Linked DNA regions of Homo sapiens. The protein of the gene in region 4 purifies or fractionates together with the protein of the main gene of each other region. This does not show direct contact. Each region holds a gene or a part of one and is shown on either strand. Other genes may lie near its edges. The genes, in order: WASF1, CERT1, NHSL3, CSNK1G3 and ACACB.

Region 1 (4,287 bases), on a different chromosome or scaffold from region 4:
TAAATAATTTGTATACATGGACATAAAGAGTGGAATAATAGATAATGGAGACTCTGAAGAGTGGAAGGATAGATGGTGGGTGAGGGGTGAGAAATTACTTAATGGGTACAATGTACACTATACTAAAAAGCCAGGCTTTGCCACTATGCAATATATCCATGTAACTAAACTGTACGTGTACCCTCTAAATCTATAAAAATAATTTTAAGAAGTGAGTGCTAGTCTTCATCCTCGACTAAAATATAAAATGCTTCACTGTTCCTCCCTTTTCGTTTAACCCTTTCACAATTCTCTGGCATAACCTGTAGCACATGCATGTTATAAAAATTTAGCAAATTTAACAAATTTAGCAAGATGTCCCTATTAAAACAACTAGAAAACAAACTTACTTTTGTAGCATAAGGTGAAAACATAACACACTTGACTTTTTTGGTAAAGGAATCAAACAAGTTATTCCATGCCCTGACACATAAGCTTTTCTTCTTTTCAAATAAGTTAGTCAATGTAACTTTATTGGAGTAGACCTGGCTAGGTTAGGAATAAAGAATGGCTACATGCTGGACTAACTACTATCAAGCACACCAAATTAAAAAAACAAAAAAACAAAAAAACTTTGCTGTCATCATCATCCAACAGATGTCATCACACCCAAAACCCACCTACTTAGAATTTCTTTAGGACCTTTAGTTTAAGAAATGGTACCTTTGCAGCATAAGGGAGTAGGAAAAAAATGGGACTTTGAAATCACACATATCTGTGCTCAAATTCCACCTCCATTTCTATTAGCCATGTGACCTTGAGCAAATTACTTGATCTATGAGAGGACTCAGTTTGCTGGTTGACAAGTACCACAAATACAATTCTAACAGTTTACGCAAAAAGGAGGACTTATGACAAAGGTAACTAGGATGTCTCTGGAACCCAATCTCAGGACCATGGACAAAGGAACTCAAATACAGTCAGGACTCTGTGCATCTGCTTCTTTGCACTCTTTGTTCTAGAAGCCCTGGCTTATCTAGCCCACAGGGCAAGAAACAAGGCCATTAACAGTTCCAGAGTTTTGTATCTCACAGCTTCAGCAACTGAAGAGAAAACAAATTATTCAACCTCTGGGCATGGAGGACCCAGGAAAAGTTCTGAGTGACTTGGCTTAGTAAAAAAGTGTCTAAAACCAGGCCAATAAACCACAGAAATGAACAGAATTGTGATTGGTATCTCTGGCCCCTTCCAAGCCAAAGTGATCTTTACAAAAGACAGATCTGATCCAGTAATTAACCCGATTAAAACTCTTCATGGCCTTCCCCAATAGACTTAAAATCCTTAACCTCGTTAAACCAAACCTCACGTAGGCCCTCTGCATAGTCTGGCTTCTGTTTACCTCTGCAACCTCATATCAAGTCACAATCCCTCTTACACTAAGCTTTAACTGTTTCACCTGTTCTTTGAATTCTCTTCCTTTTCCACCTAGCTAACTTCCACTAATCTTGCCTCTAAGAAGCCTCCCCTGACTCCCAGTGTAAATCCAGTTCCCTCTTCTTTTCCTTTACAGCATTCACCAAAATTTCTAAGTACAAATGTATTTGTTCAACACCTGTTTTTTACTATACTGTTAACTCCAAGAGAATAGAGACCTGTCCTTTTTAGCACCTACTTGGCCCTCAATAATTATGTGCTGATTATGAACTATGAATCACTGGTTTAACAAGGGGGACCCACTAAATGAACCAATTACAAATGAGGGGACAGTAGCAGGCAGGCAGAATTGTTATTATCAAGTTATTAAAATGACTGCTCCAACAGAAACTTATCAGTAAAAGGGGAGATAAAGCAGTTCTGAAACAATCTGGGCTTCCGCTAGGCAGAACAAACAACTTGTTCAATTCAGTTAACCTTTTTCTTCAATTAAATCCTTATAGGGCTATGATAGCAATTAAACAAGATAAATAATAAATGTGACAGCATCTATACAGAATCTTGTACATCTAGCAAGCAAGCAATGTCACTTCTTTTCCTTTTGGACCATGTTACACATTATTTTTGAATATCACTGATCTCCAAATAATTATTAAATACTCCAATGCATATGACAAAAATAGCTGTTTCATGACCTCTTCCCTCACAGCACCCTGATCTTTCCACATGGAACAGAATGACTTCTCTTTTATTCTGTAGTAATTGCATACACTCAAAATCCATTTAGCTTAAACCAAAAACAGGCACTGGGAACACAAAAATGAAGCAAAGCAAAACAAAACAACCAAACGCTTACAACAAAACTGTCCTCAAGGAGTTCACAGATTCACTTTCTCAATCTGCCTTCAGCTCCATCACATCCATACCAAAGCTCCATAGCACCCCAGGTAAGGCTGCTACAAATACAAGATGCCCCGTATTTTATGGGGCAATAATCCATCTTTATATCTTCATACTCCCACTTCATGACCTCATTCCAAAATTTTTTCCTTAAAAAAATTCTATGGAGACTGACTGGATATGATCTTTCTTCAAAGTATGAATAAAATCTACCCTGACTTTACCAATAGCTCAAAATAAGGAAACAAAGGAAACAATCCAAAAGAAAAATCCTGTTTCTTGACAGTGCTGGGAGTTTATTTTTAAAAATTAAAACAAACAAAAAACCCATCACAAAAATAACGCCTTTAAGAGACTAAAAAATCTTGCTTCTGAGAACAGGCACGTGTGAAAGGATCAAGACTACTTTCTTTTTCAGAGGTAGGTCCAGAAAGAAGAAATGTCCTCATAAGAGGGACGTAAGCGGTAACTTTAGGGAAAATGAACTCTCAGGAAAAAAAGGGGGTTACACCAAGCTTCGAAGTATCTTAGAATTTTATTTGTAGCTAAAACAGATCTCCGAAGTCATCTACTTCTACCTTTTCATTTTATAATCAAACATCTTGAGAAGTAAAGTCACGCAGAAGACTGCATTTCCTTCTAATTTTTGTCATGCCCTAACTTCTTGTCCCAGATAATGTAAGCCTATGCCACTCACTGAACTGAGAAACAGCCTCCTCTTCAAGTCCACTGGGTGAAAGAGAACAAGTTCCTAATAATGTTGTCATGTCTAACACAAGAGTTACAGATCCTAGCATTTCAGGGTACATCTGAAACTTATTTTTCCCATAGAAAGACTGTCATACAAATTATTATAGGTATTTTAATATACTTATGCTAATTATTAACATAATTTTATAATTTCTTTAGTATTAACATAATCCTATAATTCAGGTATTTTATTATTTAAATAGGCTTTAGTGGGCTGTCTGTGACTCTAACCACTAAGTATACTGTTTCTGAGAAAATAAGACTCAAGTTCCAAACCATTTTACAAGTTGTAAAATGTAATCAATTGTGTAGTAAGTTAGAACTACCAATTCACAAAGACTCAAAATTATAAGCTGAATGTGATAAACTTAAAACACAAGATTCTTAATTTTATAAAAAGTTCCACTTCAGGGGTCATTTATTTTTAACAACTAGGTACTCAAGCATTCAGCATAGGATTTAATTTACATATATCTTTTTTATTACTATTTCACTAGAAAACGTAAGTCACAAAGAATCAAACACACTTCTATCTAGTGTAGGAAAAACAAAAAATATGTTAACATACATCTTCATAAAGTGAGCTATAAGAAGAAAATTGTTAATATTTCATAAATCAAAGACTACTAACATATACATTATTAAGTATCTAGTGCCAGTTCAAAAGTGTACAGGTAATGGAATTATATCTGAGCAGGTAAATGGAGTTCAAAGAACCTTGAAATTCATTTTTCTCTTTTCTCCTGAGATAAAGTTATACATTTCATTAATTATAATGTTTGATAAATCTTTAAAAATGTTTCACTAAATATATTAATTCAATGGATATTCTTTACCCATTCATTTTATTTGTTCAACAAAGAAAATTGAGCCCCTGCTATTTGTTAAACACTATACTAACAACTTTGGATTTATGACAATAAGCTGCAGGTCAGTTTCTCTCCTCAAAGAACTAAGAAAAACCACGACTTTACTGCATTTACCCAAGTGACGGTGTCAGCTAAATTTTAATTCATTTAAGAAAACATTATAAAACAAATTCTCAAAAACGAAACCATACAATAGTAACTTTAAACACACTTTAATAGTCTTATCTATATGAAGTTTTCTCACAAAGTAACCAAAAGCACTGTTTTGGTAAAAGTGCTAATAACATAATCTTTTGATAGTAGTCCAATAAGGAAATCACAAGGTACTATGTACTGTGATAATGAAAATCCAACA
Region 2 (3,464 bases), about 48 Mb from region 4:
ACTACATGAAATTTTGTATCTTTAAAAAATGAATCATTTCATCTTGCAAATGATTTGTATTGTATGCTATTTATTACTCTCAGTAATCAGGAATGACGCTGCATAACAAGGACTAGTCCAGATACATATACGAGATAACCAAAATAAAAGTAACTTAAATAGGATAAAAGGTTTTTTTTCTCATTTAAAGTAGGTAGTCCCATTTATTGAAGACCTAGGCTCCATGTCATTCCCATAGTATATGTTTCCCCTTGCATACCTTAATATTGAAATATTTAATCTAAGTGACTTAGAATTCTTTCTAATGTGATTTGATTCAAATAAGTCTTTTTTCATTAAATCTTTGAATCTAAGTAGAACATAATCATGGAGTATGAGGAGAGAGGAATGGAAAGTTGTTGCTTACTGGGTACAGAGTTTCTGTTTGGGATGATGATAAATTTCAGAGATAGCAATATGGTTACATAACACTGTGAATGTAATTAATGTCCCTGAATTGTACCCTAAAAGTTAGTTAAAATGACAAATTATACGTGTATATATTTTACTGCAATTAAAAAAATAGAACATTATTCCTTTTATTATATTGTTCTGCAAAGCTATTAACTCTGTTCATAATTAATCATTTGGTAGATATCCTCAGATGCTTTCCATTTAAAATTTGAGAGATTTTACCTTCAATTAAGACATTTATTGGCATTACGTTTCTCTTGTTAGTTCCATGTTAGATCTGTTTTTCAAAAGATTTTTACTTCTCCACAGAGGGTGTGGCCTGCTTCTCAGCGAGACGTATTATATCTTTCTGTCATTCGAAAGATACCAGCCTTGACTGAAAATGACCCTGAAACTTGGATAGTTTGTAATTTTTCTGTGGATCATGACAGTGCTCCTGTAAGTACATGTATATAAATGTGTATAATTAAACAATATAAAGCTAAATACACAATGCGGGACAAAAATGATAAACACAGCCCATACACTATACTTGATTTGATAATGGTTCTTAGATTTTATGTTGGATTGACTGCTAGGAACAGTATAGCCCATGTGTTGTCTGAGGGCAACAGTCATGCCTATGAACATTCCACCAGGGCCGTTTACCTTTCCTTCTAATGTTTCGTGAAACAGCCAAAAGGGCAGTACATACACTGGGCAGTAGGCTACTTCCCACAGTTATCTCTTAAGCCGTTATCAACTGCCAGCCAAACCTCTGTGGTTTACCACAATTTAGCTCCATTTACTACTTAAGAGGAAGGGATCCTGGGCAACATGGTTAGACCCCATCTCTATTAAAAAAAATTTTTTTTTTTTTTTTAATTAGCCAGGCCTGGTGATGTGCACCTGTGGTCCCAGCTACTCTGGAGGTTGAGGCGGGAGGATTGCTTTGAGCCCAGGAGTTTGAAGCTGCAGTGAACTATGATGGCACCACTGCACTCCAGAGTGGGCAACAGAGCAAGACCTTGTCCCCAGAAAAAGTGGGTGGGGAGGAATCCTGGTGTCATATCAGCTTGGTGCTTATAAGATTTCACTGGAGATACTTTTAAGAGTTACGATTTTGGTTAACCTAATATAATATTAGACCAGCAGAGTTTACAAAATACTGGGTATCTACTGATGCTTTGTTTTTTGTTTTGGCAGCTAAACAACCGATGTGTCCGTGCCAAAATAAATGTTGCTATGATTTGTCAAACCTTGGTAAGCCCACCAGAGGGAAACCAGGAAATTAGCAGGGACAACATTCTATGCAAGATTACATATGTAGCTAATGGTATGTATTTTATTGTTTTTGCTCTTTGATAATGTGGCTGTTCTTGATCATGACCTATATGACAACAATTTGGACAAATGCCTTTTTAGTTCTTATCCATTAGATTACTAATTTTTAATTTGGAGAAAGGTATATCAGAATTACTAGAGAATCTTTGAAAGTACAGATGTCTGAATTTCACCCTGGAACTACTACTATATGAGTATTTCTGAAGCTAGAGCTGGATAGGAAAATTTTAAAACTTTATCCCTAGGTCACTGTATATACCCTTCTTTTTTTTTTTTTTTTTTTTTTGAGATGGAGTCTCGTTCTGTTGCCCAGGCTGGAGTGCAGTGGTGCAGTCTCAGCTCACTGCAGCCTCCGCCTCCTGGGTTCAAGCGATTCTCTGCCTCTGTAGCTGGGATTACAGGTGCCCACAACCACGCCTGGCTAGTTTTTTGTATTTTTAGTAGAGACGGGGTTTCACCATCTTGGCCAGGCTGGTCTTGAACTCCTGACCTCGTGATCCACCCACCTCGGCCTCCCAAAGTGCTGGGATTACAGGCGTGAGCCACTGCGCTCGACCTAGCCTTCATATTAAGCACCATTTTCTTAGATATTTGCCTCATAGAACAGATTTATTATTAGGAATATAAGCAACAGTGGGGAAGGAAATTAAGAGTTCTTTTACTCATTGTCAGCCTTTTTAGCTTTCTGAATCAATGTTCCCCTAGTCCTTATTAGTTGCTAGTTACATATTTATTTCTCTTTGACATTCATTGTCAGGCTTTTTGTTTTCTGAGTCAGCGTTTCCCTAGTCCTTATTAGTTGCTAGTTACATATATTTGTTTCACTTTGGATAGGTCTTTTCATTGCTTGCTTTGGGTCCTTACTTCACCTGCTTTGCACCTGGAGTAATCATTGCAACCTCTCTCATCAAAAGTCATACCTTCTTTATACAGGGCCATAACTGCTAGTATGTTCAAAGAAACAGTTGTACCTGAGTAAGTTACTATTTCATTATAGTACAGATTTGTGAATAATCTGCCCTAAATAACCTTAAGTGGTGCTATACTAATTTTTGCAGGTAATTTCGGGAACTAAGAACATTGTAGAAAGGTTATAGATGCTTTCTTATTTGCTGTCTGATTATGTCTGATGGATAGTGTTAAGGAATGAAGGGTTGGGACTTAAAAGATCATAATTGGTCCAGCTGGGTACAGTGACTCAGCCTGTAATCCCAGCACCTTGGGAGGCTGAGGCGGGCGGATCATGAGGTCAAGAGTTCGAGACCATCCTAGCCAACATGGTGAAAACCCATCTCTACTAAAAATACAAAATTAGCTGGGCATGGTGGCGTGCACCTGTAATCCCAGCTACTCCGGAGGCTGAGGCAGGAGAATCACTTGAACCCCGGAGGCGGAAGTTGCAGTGAGCCAAGATCGCGCCACTGCACTGCACCCTGGCAACAGAGCAAGACTCCGTCTCAAAAAGAAAAAAAAAAGATGCTAATTGGTCCAATGTGAGGAATATTTTAAAAACAAGGGAACAAATTAAGTGCTTCACATATGTTTGGAGAATTGTATCTTAATACATTTTAATTTTCCTTTATCTTGCAGTGAACCCTGGAGGATGGGCACCAGCCTCAGTGTTAAGGGCAGTGGCAAAGCGAGAGTATCCTAAATTTCTAAAACGTTTTACTTCTTACGTCCAAGAA
Region 3 (4,287 bases), on a different chromosome or scaffold from region 4:
AGGTGGAGCCTGGGGGCCAGTCGTGGGAGAAAAACTGTTAGAGCAAAGGACTCCAGGCACATTCTGCAGGGCACTACTTTTGTAATAAGAGCTCTGCGAGAAATGGTTTCCACAGTCAAGTAGGTATGGGCAAGGCTAGGTTAAACAAAGCTAGAGGCTTCTTTCTGTAAGACTAAGGCTACTAAGTCAATGATGGTAATTTCCCTTTAGTGATAGCTTACTATTTAGTAAACATATTATTACGTGTTAGTCGTCATTCTAAACATTTGGCATTCATTCCAATAGGGTACTTATCCTCATTTTTATAGAACATCAAACAGAAGTTCAGAGAGGTTAAGGGTTTTCCCAAGGTCACACAGCTGGCACTAGTTAGTTACACCAGGCTTCCAACAGTTAAGATTTTCTAACTCTTTTTTTATTTTTTTTTTGAGATGGAGTCTCACACTGTCGACCAGGCTGGAGTGCAGTGGTGCAATCTCGGCTCACTGCAAGCTCCACCTCCTGGGTTCACGCCATTCTCCTGCCTCAGCCTCCCAAGTAGCTGGGACTACAGGCACCCGCCATCAGGCAAGGCTAATTTTTTGTATTTTTAGTAGAGACGGGGTTTCATTCACCGTGTTAGCCAGGATGGTCTCGATCTCCTGACCTCGTGACCCGCCCACCTCGACCTCCCAAAGTGCTGGGATTACAGGCGTGAGCCACCGCACCCGGCCGCCAAGATTTTCTAACTCTTAACTGCTTTATAGTTAGTGTGTATCACGAATGTGCAAGAGGACACAGGGTACTGTGTTTCCCGAATTCATTGAATCAGAGAGCCTGGTGAAACACTGGATAAGGAGGAAAAGAAGCTACAGATGCTGGGACCCAATGGAGCCCACTGTCCCTCTCCCCTGCCCATGAATCCACCTTTGCGCTGGATCATCTCCGAGCGGATGGAGAGCGCGTCCTCTGCTGTGGAGCTCTCAGCCACGTAGGATGTGGTCTGACTGCAGAAGGAGATGTTGTCTTCATCCGGCCCCGTCCGGGAGGACTATCAGGGTAGAAGGAGATCTGGGTGGGGCTGTCTCCTCAAGGCTCCCCATTGGAACTTTTTTTTGAGACAAATCCAGCTCAGGCTGGAGTGCAGTAGCGAAATCTTGGCTCACCACAACCTCCGCCTCCCAAGTTCAAGCGATTATCCTGCCTCAGCCTCTCAAGCAGCTGGGATTATAGGTACCCTCCCACCATGCCTGGCTAATTTTTGTATTTCTAGTAGAGACAGGGTTTCACCACTTTGGCCAGGCTGGTCTCAAAATCCTGACCTCAAGTGATCCGCCCACCTCAGCGTCCCAAAGTGCTGGGGTTACAGGTGTAAGCCACCTCGCCCAGCCTCCCACTCGAACTTTTGAGTCACAGATCCCCTCCAGCATCACCTAGCACTGAGCAACCCTGAACTAGCCCTCAGGGTTCATTTAGTGTAGCCCTTTGTGATAAAGAAACTGAGACCCAGAAATGTTCCAAGACATCCTTGCCAGGGGTCAAGCAGGTAGAGAAGAGTCAGGACTGAGCTGGAGGCAGGGCTCACCTGGATACTCTGGGTGTCTCCATGGTCCCAGCCACCCTTGTTCAGTTTCTGTTTCTCTGGAAGACACCAGAAGGGTCTGTTGGGTTAGGCCCCTGACCTTGACAGCTGACAGTGCAGCACTGGAGGGAGGAGAGGGGAGGGGAGTGGAGAGGAAGCTTACCTTGGTGTTGTAGGGAGCGGAGCCCCTCCTGGGCCTGAGTGTGCAGCTCTTCCAGGTGGGGGGGTCGCCCACTGGGAAAGAAGACGTTGTCCTGGTGCTCATCCACTGCAGACCCTGGCCCCTGGCCAGGCCCTACACTTAGATGTTTGTCATTCTCAGCCTTGGCAGAGCCTAGTAGGAGGGAGGAGGAAGGGAAATGAGGTAAAGGCATCTGGGCCCTGCAGGGGCACAGGTCTCACGGCAAGGGCAGTCATGGTCCCCAGACTGCACACGGCCATTGCATATACAAGCAATGCCCCCTTCCCCAGTCTGGACACATAACCCACAGTTCTGGAGTAAACACTCAACACACACAGCCCCCATATACACAAACTACACCCAAGTGTACATAAATCTGAGTACCCACACCACACAAAGGGCCCCATATAAGGCCCCACACACAGGGCACACAGGTACACAGGTCTACTGTGTACGTACACAGCACTCACAGATGTCATTCATGTATATAAACAAAGGGCATCCGAGTATAAACACACATAGGTACACACACCAAGCACACCCAGCCCGCACGTAAACACACAACACCCACAGTCCCTGCTCTGTATATACACAAACAGTAACCAAGTATACACACGACTATGTACTCACACGTCACTCAGAGCCCCACAAAAAACATCCCGAGTATACACATAGCCCATAGTAAATACATTGCTCTCGCCTCCATACCCAAAACCCCACTTCACAGGAAAACAAACCACTCTTTTCATGCCACCACTTGAACCAGGTCCAGGAAGAAGATATCACGGGAAATCAGGAAGGAGAGACAGCTGGCATGAGTTACAACCATATTCCCAGAAAATCCTAGGGGGGATGCAGACCAAGGAGATAGCCTCCTGGGTCCCCTACTCACCCATGTGGCTGCCCCTTAGTGGAAGGATGGGCAGGGGAGGGGAGAAGAAAGACCCAGGCCCCTCCACCCGCCCAAGGGAGCTCCAGTCTCTCTTGGGGAAATAGTCCCAGGTATCCCCCTCTCCTGGAGGCCCTGGCCCTGGCCCTGGCCCCTGTTGCAGAGGAGCCAGGGATCCATTACAAAGGATCCTGTTACAAGCCCCGCCTGTGGAGGGGCTGGCCATCTAATCCTGGGGATGGGGGGCTGTGTCAGCACTTTGCAGCCCCAGCCCCCCCTTTAAATGAAACCCACAACATAAGCAAAAGCGCTGGAAGGGTCATGTGACCTTGGTAACACCTTATAAAGGGACGGGAACAAAACAAGCCCTTTAAAGGGCCATGCTCCAGGAGCAGGGTCTTCAGTTCAGAAACCTGCCTTTCCTCCTCCCTCAGCCCATTCGTCAACAGCCAGAGCTCCTGCCCTAGGGAGTCTGCAGGAATCCCACAGGTCAGAGCTAGGAGGCCCCCAACAGATCCAACCAGACCAGTGCCCGAGATCCCCAGATTTTACAAGTGGGGAAACGGTTCAAAGGGGCAAGGCCTTGCCTAAGGTCACCCAGCAGTAGGAGTCAGACTGACCCTGGACTCAACTCCAGGTTCCCAGAGGGGACTCCCGGATCACACTCAGAGTAGGGGCCCCCAACCCTCAAAAGTCCAATAAACTCTTGTCCCTATGTCTTAATCCAGGTCTGAAAGCCCAATTCCTAGGAGAAGGAAGGAGGAACAGGCCCCTCCCTCCAAAACTTCTCCATTCCCAGGCCTCTAAACAGGATTTCACTGAGCAGGCTTCCCAACTTCCAGTGGTACTACTCTCCTCTCTTCTGGGCCGCCCACGTCCCATCCTCCCCGGCACACTAGGAAAGGCTAGTACATCTTGACTGGGAGGCTGTACCCAGTAAAGTGTGGGTACCCCGGCAGGGAGGCAAGTCTCACGGGAGGGCTGCAGGCTTCAAGGTCAGAGACACCTGGATCCATCCTCCCAACCCACAAGCAGGGCCCAGACAAAGGCAGCAACAAAGCGGCTGGACAAAAGCACAGCCGGATGGGAGATTCTGGCCTCATTATCAGCCCCCAGCCCCACCCCATTACTTTTGCCCAGCCTTGATTCCTCATTCTACATAAGGGTCTGGGAAAGGGAGGCATCGAGCATCCCTCCCCTCCCCCCAAGCCACACCCACTCACCCTTCTTCTTAAACAGCCCTAGGAGCGCCGGGAGGCGGCGGCCAACGAACACCACCATGACTGCGGGCGCCACTCGAGACGTTCCCTATCCCACCCTGCCTCTCCAGAGCAGAGCGCGGGGCGTACCTTCACTGTAACCCAGCACTATGGGGATGCGAGCCCTCCCGCCCCGCCGCAGAGCACCGGCTCCAGACAGAGGAGGGGGAGGGGCTGCTCTCCATGTCCTCCTCCCACCTTCGCCACTGATCCCGCCCATCTGCCGACCCCACCCCTTAAATGGGGTGCAGGGGCACAGAAAGGCAACTGAGGCCAGGAGTCCGTGGGTGCTCTGCTCCAGTAGAGTATGATTAGGAGGACCGAAGATACTCAATCCAGCAGCAGATCACTCACCCTGCCTGCAAGTCCAGAGTTAAGGCAGGGGTCCCAGCTGCCA
Region 4 (4,287 bases):
GTTTCATAGAAAAAAATTATAATCTTTCAACTTCACCACCTATTTTATTGATTCAAAGTTAGCCAATGAAAAAATAAAGTAGTGTTTTTAGCTCCTAAAATATTCAGACCCAGCCGGGCACAGTGGCTCATGCCTGTAATCCAGCACTTTGGGAGACCGAGGCAGGCAGATCACCTGAGGTCAGGAGTTCAAGACCAGCCTGGCCAACATGGCAAAACCCCGTCTCTACTAAACATACAACAATTAGCCAGGAAAGGTGGCGACTGCCTGTAATCCCAGCTACTCAGGATGCTGAGGCAGGAGAATCACTTGAACCCAAGAGGCAGGGGTTGCAATGAACCGAGATCATGCCATGGCACTCCAGCCTGGGAAACAAGAGTAAAACTCCGTCTCAAAAAGTAACTTGCCAGCCACGGTGACTCAAGCCTATAATCCCAGCACTTTGGGAGGCCAAGGCAGGCAGATCACTTGAGGCCAGGAGTTCGAGACCAGCCTGGCCAGCATGGAGAAAGCCCATGTATACTAAAAATACAAAAATTAGCTGGGTGCAGTGGCATGCACCTGTAATCCCAGCTACTTGGGACGCTGAAGCACGAGAATCGCTTCAAAACAGGTAGACACAGCGATCACTATTTATCATCTCTCTAACATCCATATCCCCCAAATTCTTCCTTCCCACAATTTTTTTAAAATATCCTCCCTCTTCCATCTAACTCAGAAAAATGTGATCCCAACACCAATTGCAGAAGGTATCTCCTGATTAGTAGAAACCAACCATGATAACCTTACTTCCCTTATGATAACTAGTTAGGACGTTCATGTGACCTAATTCTGGTCAATAAGATACGAAGAGAAAAATATGTTGGTAGGCTTATGCAAAAGATGTATTTGCTTTTCCAGAGACACAGACAGAAAGAGAGAGAGAGATCCATTCCATCCTCTGGCCAGTGCATGTCTAGATGTGATCTTGCTGCTGGCCTTAGGATGACTCCAACACACAGAAGACAAACAGCCAAGAAAATCACAGAGGGGCAGACCAGAGCTCTCAAGTACTAGCTTGGAGCCACCCACCCTACCTTCATACTTCAATGTGCCATTTCAGCATCTACTGTAATTCAGCAAGCAATGTGGTTACACCAAAATAAATAGCATACCACATATACCACTCCTTCTCCAACCTGGACTTCCTGCTCCTTCAACTGAAAGTTCTCCTTTCCATTTGGACTGAGCTAGGTGAGATAGGAGGCTCAAGTGCTCCTGGTATATATCAAGGGTGTCACATTTCCTCCTTCAAAGAACAATCTCCTCTACCCCAGCATTCCTAATTGGATGGAGATGTTGGAACTATAAGAAGGCTTACCCCTTCAACCCTGACAGTACATAAAAGTTGAAAGGTAGCTTATGAAATCAGATTAGGGACCATACTGGGAAATATGTGAGAACCATAGATTGATCACCTGACTAGATAAACAATTCACTCTAAGGAATGAACCTCTGGGAATAACAGGATCTTCCTTTTTTTTTTTTTTTTTCTTAAAGAGGATGTTATTAAATAAATCTCTAAGCAGTAGTGTAAACTAGGAAAGATGATGTTTTAGAAGCAGACTTCTTTAATATATTACAATTAATAAATGGTTCTGAAGTTAGCCTAAAAAGGAAATCATTTCTCAACATCTACAAACTCTATACATTTTATTACAACTAAAACAAAAATGTCCATTCACAAGACAATCTTATAATACAGAGCTATGGCCTTTTCTTCCAGTGTGGGTCTATCGAAGAAAGTTCTATTTCCTTTTTCTTGCAAAAACTACCCCCATAAAACAACACCTGTGATTTCCAGTTTCTGTTTCTTAAACACAGAAAGACATTTTACAAACGTGAAAAATAATATTATTGCAGATTTTTTTAGATCGTTAGGTGTTTTTTGTTTTTTTTTCCCTAATCATTTAAAATTATTTAACCCTCATCTATTTCAACCATAATTGATTTTGGCTACTCACTTGATTTCAAAGTAGCCAATTGGTTCTCATACAAACGCCTTTTTATCTTCAGAGTTCACTGAATAATAATTCATTAAACTATGTGATTACAACATCAAGTGCCATAACAGTGTGTTGGGTACAAACACAAATGTTTCTTGGTAAGTCTACAGTAACTGGGGGGAATAAAAGTTCAAGATAAAACTAAAGAATAGTCTACTGTCATTCAATGTAGCATGAGCATCAGTCAGCAAATTCTACAGAGAGAATGAAGACTATCATTTAATCTCACGAGTGGGTTAAGCAGAGGTCAGGTATGAGAGATTTTCCTGTAATAGGGTGTTCCCGAGAGTCTTTGCTTGTCTACCCACCAATCCACCCTCTAAAATTCTTATCGGCAACTTCTGAAATGAAGGACAGAAGATTTACACAGTGCCTACTATGTGGCAGGCATCACATAGTCCTTGGCACTTCATATGAATTTCCTCCATTTTGATGAAGAATATAATGGCAGAATAACAGGGTAACTCTCTTCCCTTTTTTTCCAAATGTAGCTATCAACTGAAGAAAGTACTTCCAGGTAACACAAAGTGATCTAAATAAATGTAATAAATTTGAATACAACTTCAACCTCACATTACTAACCTAGAGAAAAAAAACATTAAACTTTGTATTTAAGAAAAAGAGTATCATGAGACCATCTCTCATTCCATTGAAAAGTTATGAAAAATGCGGACATGATTTAGCCATGTGGACATAACTTACTCATAAATTTTCAATAAATTACAACTATGTAATATATCATTGGTAAACAAAGCGACCAAAAAAGTGTGTCTTATCTCCCCAATACATAAACACTTCAATTCATTGTTAAGAGTTATTTCTTATAACTAAGATGATAAGCACGAAGTGGCAGGAGAGAGTATAACCAATCACTATGGTCTAACAACAAATAAACACATACTTTCCTTAGGTTTCATAATAGAAGGGAAGCCCAAACATTTATAGTTGCTAAATCTCAGCTTTCAGAGAGAGCTTAAAAAAAAGAAAAAATGTCTAACAGCAGCCTCCACCATGTCGCTAGAAGTTATATATTTCTACATTTATCTCCCATTCCATATTTCCTGAGCAGTTCAGATGCCCTTGAAAATCATTTCACATTATTAAAGCACATTTGATTTCTACACATTAAGAATCCAAGCATAGTTCTGTCCTGCAGATCAGCAAAAGGTGATGCTCTGAGGTGCCTTAAATTACCAGAACCATACTGTCTGCACCTACAGGATCCCACAATTAAAGACAGATACCTCAAAACTACCGCTTCTGAAGAAATTACATCATAAAGAACCAACACTCAGACACATACTATCAATTAATACCACGAATTGCCAACCGCTTGAGAAAAGACCAAAAAAAGGATGAAGATGGAAGATAAGAAAAAACAGATCATTGGTGGCTTAAGACTTTGAAGTCAGAAAAAAAAACTGACTCAAATATGCACTCTGCTACTTCCAAGATATATCTTCAACACATTATTTAAACTCTAGAAGACTGTTTCCTGCTCTCAAAAATGAGGTTACACCACCTAACTCAGAGTTGTCGTAATAGTATCATTTATGGCCTCTATACAAAGTAGGCACTTAATAAATTATAGGAGGTATTGTTGTTACTGGGAGGTTGAAGGGAACACAAATTCAGTTATAAGTCCTTTTTGAATACTAAGAGGGGAATAATTAGGGAAGCTAAGAGGGGAATAATTAGGAGAAGAAAAAAAAACTTCAAACAATTTTCCCTGTAACATGATTTTACTTGCATTTATAAACTGATTTTTTTTTCTAAGCACTCCTTTGATAATGATTAAGTGTGGGGTTACATTATTTTAGGGTCGTCTAATATTTAAGATGACTTAAAAACCTCACACACGTTAATCCCGAACTGTGAAAATTTCTCATCTTATCATCCCTCTGTTACTATCAATTTTCCTCACGTACAGATTCTTTTATAATTACTTCATTAAAACCACTTTCTGTGAAAATATACATTCTTTACATTTCATCTCATCCACAGCAAATCTCACTATTAACAATAATATAACTATTCAATGACCTATATTTTGTTATTCAATACTTCAGCATTCCTTCTATTTAATTTGACACATCCTTTTGGGAAGCCCTTTGGAACAAAACAACCGCTTGTTCCATTCTGAAAAACATCTGAAACAATAAACTATACCAGAATAAGTCTACTCCCAGCATGGAGAGGATTACAGGATGGATCAGAGGAGACACAGAGAAGTAACTGGAGA
Region 5 (4,287 bases), on a different chromosome or scaffold from region 4:
CCCAGCACTTTGGGAGGCCGAAGTGGGCAGATCACCTGAGGTCGGCAGTTTCAGACCAGCCTGACCAACATGGAGAAACCCCATCTCTACTAAAAATACAAAATTAGCTGGGCATGGTGGGGTGTGCCTGTAGTCCTAGCTACTCAGAAGGCTGAGGCAGGAGAATTGTTTGAACCCGGGGGTGCGGAGGTTGCAGTGAACTGAGATTGTGCCATTGCACTCCAGCCTGGGCAACAAGAGCAAAACTCCATCTCCAAAAAAATATATATATATAATAATTATATATACATTTATATAAATATATATTTATATAAATACATATAATATGTATTATATTATGTATATATAATGTTATATAACATATTATATATTATATTATGTATATTATATGTTATATTATATAATATATTATATATATTATTATATATAATTATATATATAATAATATATATATGTTTCCATCAATAGGGGATTAGTAAAAAAAAAAAAAAAATTATACACGGTACATCCATGCAAGGAAATAATATGTGGTGGACCACTCTTTATTAACAATGAAAGAGGTCCACAAGTGACTGACCAATTAAAGAATAATATATTCAAATGATCTGTCCACTCTCAGCTCTTATCTGCAACTTATGCCTACAACTCTAGGTTTCAGGGACGGAATTGTGTCTAGAAACAGTCAACAACTAAGCTGGCCCCTCAGTGACAGGATTCTCGGTCCTTGCGCTAGGTTCTTAAAAATCGTTTTCAGTCTTATTTAAAATTTTCACAATATAATCATGGATTACTTCTGTTTCTTTTTTTCTTTTTTTTTTTTTTTTGTGATAGGGTCTCACTCTATCCCCCAGGCTGAAGTACAAGGGCTCCATCTCAGCTCACTGCAACCTCCGCCTCTCAGGTTCAAGCGATTCTCATGCCTCGGCCTCCTGAGTAGCTGGAATTACAGGTGTACGCCACCACGCCCAGGTAATTTTTGTATTTTTAGTAGACACAGGGTTTCACCATGTTGGCCAGGCTGGTTTTGAACCCCTGACCTCAAGTGATCCGCCCACCTCAGCCTCCCAAAGTACTGGGATTACAGGCATGGGTCACTGCACCCGGCCATGGATTACTTTTCTAAATGCAAGAAACAATGGAAAACGATCACTCAGTCAGCAAATATTAAGAAATTCCCTGAACAAACCAGTATTTTTCTATCCTGGAAATTTTCTTCTCATGCGCAGAGACCCACATAATACAAGAAACAGATCCAAGTGCCACCAGCCTGGACGTGATCACAGGCCACTTTGCTGTCCGCCTCCTGCCCTGGACTGGAGCATAGCAAGGGCAGGACCCTGGGTGTTGGTGTACTCTCCATCCCCAGCATGCAGCCCAGGACCCAGCACAGAGCAGGAATGTAAGGAAGGGAGGGCCAGGTTCTGAGAGAGGAAGAAATGCTCTGCGACATCTTACCTTTGTGATCAGGTCAGAGTGCCTGATGATGGCGCGGATGAAGAACCTATGGTCCGTCACTTCCACACCTTCCTTCACCTTGGCAGCACCCAGGTAAAGGTGCATCTTGTGGTTGGCACAGGGCACGGCGGTCAGATCGAAGTTACGCATCCGGTTAAGTTCCAGCTGGAAGGCCAGGGCAGGTTCCAAGTGACGGTAAATGCGATCTTCTGCAAACTGTAGGCGGACCAGAGAGAGAAGACAGACACATACACACACAGCGTGACGTTGGAGCTGCGTCCCTGCTTGGTCCACACCCTACTCTGCAGACCCCTGGTGTCCATGGGTTTGGCACTCAGGAATGCAGCATTCATGATGTTCCCTAATTGTAAGCTACCCCCAGGGCTCCAGATATTTGGGGTTTTGCTAAGATCTGAGGAGAGCTATGGGCATTGCAAGCCTGTTGTGCTGGGTGCAGCGCTGGCTCCTGGGGGAACCTAGCTAGTCCCTATCACCTGCCAGCGTGACCAGGCTGTTCTCCATCTGTCACAGCCTGTGGCAATTCTCATGAAGCCACTAACCCCTGGTTTCTTGGTGGAAATTGGTCCCCGAAAAGAAAGCAACTGACAGTACTGGAAACTAAACTGAAAAAAAAAATGAAGACATTAAGAAAAGGATGTGTCTTAGCTAGAAAAATAAAGCTTTGGATAAATTAAAATGCAAAATGCTGAATTTGGTGGGGTCTTGAATCAGTGCTGGGAATAAACCTACCTGTTCTACAACAGGGATCGGTAAACGTTTTCTTAAATGGCCAGAGAGTAAATGTTTTAGGCTGATGGATCATACGGGCTCTGTCACAACTACTCAATTCTGCTACTGTTAGAGTGAAAGCCAGAGTAGACAATGTGGAATCCAACGGGTGTGGCTGTGTTCCAATAAAACTTTATTCGTAAAAACAGGCAGCTGGTCTGCAAGTGAGTTTGCCAACCACTGTTCTAGACGAGCATAAGAAAAACAGTTTGGAAAAAATGTCTTACTGAGTACATCAGCAAGTACTGAAAATTATTCAAGCAAGACAGAAACCTGTAGTGAGGCTGAAAGGGCAAGATTCTCAGGTCTGAGTGCCATGCAGGGAACAGAGGGCTCTCAATGGAAATACAATCCCAGAGGAAGACTGCAGTCTACACAAAAGTTGCTACATTCTTGAATATGGGGATGCCTTAAGGACTGCAGACTATATTCTTCATGAATATCAAAGATGCCAGGGAGCTGGGAGGCACGGTGGCATGTGCCTATAGTCCCAGCTATTCGGGAGGCTGAAGCAAGAGAATCGCTTGAGCCATAAGTTCGAGTCCAGCCTGGGCAACATAGTGAGACCCCATCTCTTTTTTTTCCTTTTTTTTGAGACAGAGTCTCACTCTGTCACCCAGGCTAGAGTGCAGTGGAATCACCTTGGCTCACTGAAACCTCTATTTCCCAGGTTCAAGCAATCCTCCCACCTCAGCCTCCCAAGTAGCTGGGACCACAGGCTTGCATCACAATGCCAGGCTGATTTTTTAATTTTTTTGTAGAGACAGGGTCTCACTATATAACCCAGGCTGGTCTAGAACTCCTGAGCTCAAGCAAACCTCCTGCCTCAGCCTCCCAAAGTGCTAGGATTACGGGCTTGAGCCACCACACCCGGCCCCATCCCATCTCTTAAAAAATAAAACAAGATGCTAGAGAAGAGAAAACATCATTACTTTTGGCCATACCTCATCTCTTGCTCTGAATGTGAAAAACTTGGGAAATTCTTTCTGCAAAAAGAAATCCACACACAAGACAATTAAATCAAGCAAGACGCACTGAAATATGTACATCCTTATTTAGTGATTGTAAACGATTACATTCACTTCTAGAATGAATCATTTGGAAATCCTTCTCCTTTCTAATGATCTCTTTCACCCAAATCTACAAAATAAATATCAAATAAATGGCACACACCAAGGCTTGGAGAATGGGAAAGACTCATAGAGATGAACTGTGAACTAACCTCTTGGGCAATCAAGAATGTGATTCGTCGGAGTCCATAATCCACAAGGATATTTTTCTGCATTAAAAACCAAAGACACAATGGAATATTATTTGGCCGTAAAAGGAACTGAAGTATTGCTGCATGTTACCACACGGATGAACCTGTAAACATTATGCTAAGTGGAAGATGTCAATCATAAGAGACCTCCTGTGATCTGATTCCATTTATATGAAACGTCCAGAATAGGCAAATCTATATAGAGAGAAAGTAGATTAGTGGTTGCCTAGGGCTGTGGTGGGGAGAGGGTTTTTGGGTTGGGGACAGAGGGGAGTGACTGCTAACAGGTACAGGGTTTTTCTATGGAGTGATGAGAATGTCCTAAAATTGATTCTGGTGATGGTTGTACAACCTGGTGAATATACTAAAAATATATTAAATTGTACACTTTTTTTCTTATTTCTTCTAAAAAAAAAAACAGGATACATGTGCAGAACGTGCAGGCTTGTTACACAGGTATATATGTGCCATGGTGGTTTGCTGCACCTACCGACCTGTCCTCTAAGTTCCCTCCCCTCGGCCCCCACCCCCCGACAGGCCCCGGTGTGCGTTGTTACCCTCCCTCTGCCCATGTGTTCTCAATGTTCAGCTCCCACTTATGAGTGAGCACATGCGGTGTTTGGTTTTCTGTTCTTGTGTTAGTTTGCTGAGGATGATGGCTTCCAGCTTCATCCATGTCCCCGCAAAGGACATGATCTCATTCTTTTTTATGGCTGCAAAACTGCACACTTTAAATGGGTGAATTGTGTAGTATGTCAATGATGTCTCAATAAAGCTGTTAT

The links.
Region 1: the proteins of CSNK1G3 (region 4) and WASF1 purify together in Homo sapiens (affinity purification with mass spectrometry, with the first as the bait; one large-scale study listed by BioGRID). This does not show direct contact.
Region 2: the proteins of CSNK1G3 (region 4) and CERT1 purify together in Homo sapiens (affinity purification with mass spectrometry; one large-scale study listed by BioGRID and IntAct). This does not show direct contact.
Region 3: the proteins of CSNK1G3 (region 4) and NHSL3 purify together in Homo sapiens (affinity purification with mass spectrometry; one large-scale study listed by BioGRID and IntAct). This does not show direct contact.
Region 5: the proteins of CSNK1G3 (region 4) and ACACB purify together in Homo sapiens (affinity purification with mass spectrometry; one large-scale study listed by BioGRID and IntAct). This does not show direct contact.

What each region holds. Positions count from the first base shown.
Region 1 is NC_000006.12:110,172,724-110,177,010, forward strand, and holds part of WASF1 (actin-binding protein WASF1), read right to left. Parts: intron 1-4,287.
Region 2 is NC_000005.10:75,379,376-75,382,839, reverse strand, and holds part of CERT1 (ceramide transfer protein), read left to right. Parts: intron 1-762; coding exon 763-891; intron 892-1,638; coding exon 1,639-1,768; intron 1,769-3,366; coding exon 3,367-3,464. UniProt on the Homo sapiens protein: Shelters ceramides and diacylglycerol lipids inside its START domain and mediates the intracellular trafficking of ceramides and diacylglycerol lipids in a non-vesicular manner.
Region 3 is NC_000001.11:32,765,395-32,769,681, reverse strand, and holds part of NHSL3 (NHS-like protein 3), read right to left. Parts: intron 4,056-4,287; exon of another isoform or gene 3,913-4,055; coding exon of another isoform or gene 3,855-3,912; intron 1,896-3,854; coding exon 1,725-1,895; intron 1,621-1,724; coding exon 1,565-1,620; intron 1,031-1,564; coding exon 907-1,030; intron 10-906; coding exon 1-9. UniProt on the Homo sapiens protein: Able to directly activate the TNF-NFkappaB signaling pathway.
Region 4 is NC_000005.10:123,515,177-123,519,463, reverse strand, and holds part of CSNK1G3 (casein kinase I isoform gamma-3), read right to left. Parts: intron 1-4,287. UniProt on the Homo sapiens protein: Serine/threonine-protein kinase. Casein kinases are operationally defined by their preferential utilization of acidic proteins such as caseins as substrates. It can phosphorylate a large number of proteins. Participates in Wnt signaling.
Region 5 is NC_000012.12:109,234,549-109,238,835, reverse strand, and holds part of ACACB (acetyl-CoA carboxylase 2), read right to left. Parts: intron 3,524-4,287; coding exon 3,467-3,523; intron 3,231-3,466; coding exon 3,189-3,230; intron 1,672-3,188; coding exon 1,456-1,671; intron 1-1,455. UniProt on the Homo sapiens protein: Mitochondrial enzyme that catalyzes the carboxylation of acetyl-CoA to malonyl-CoA and plays a central role in fatty acid metabolism.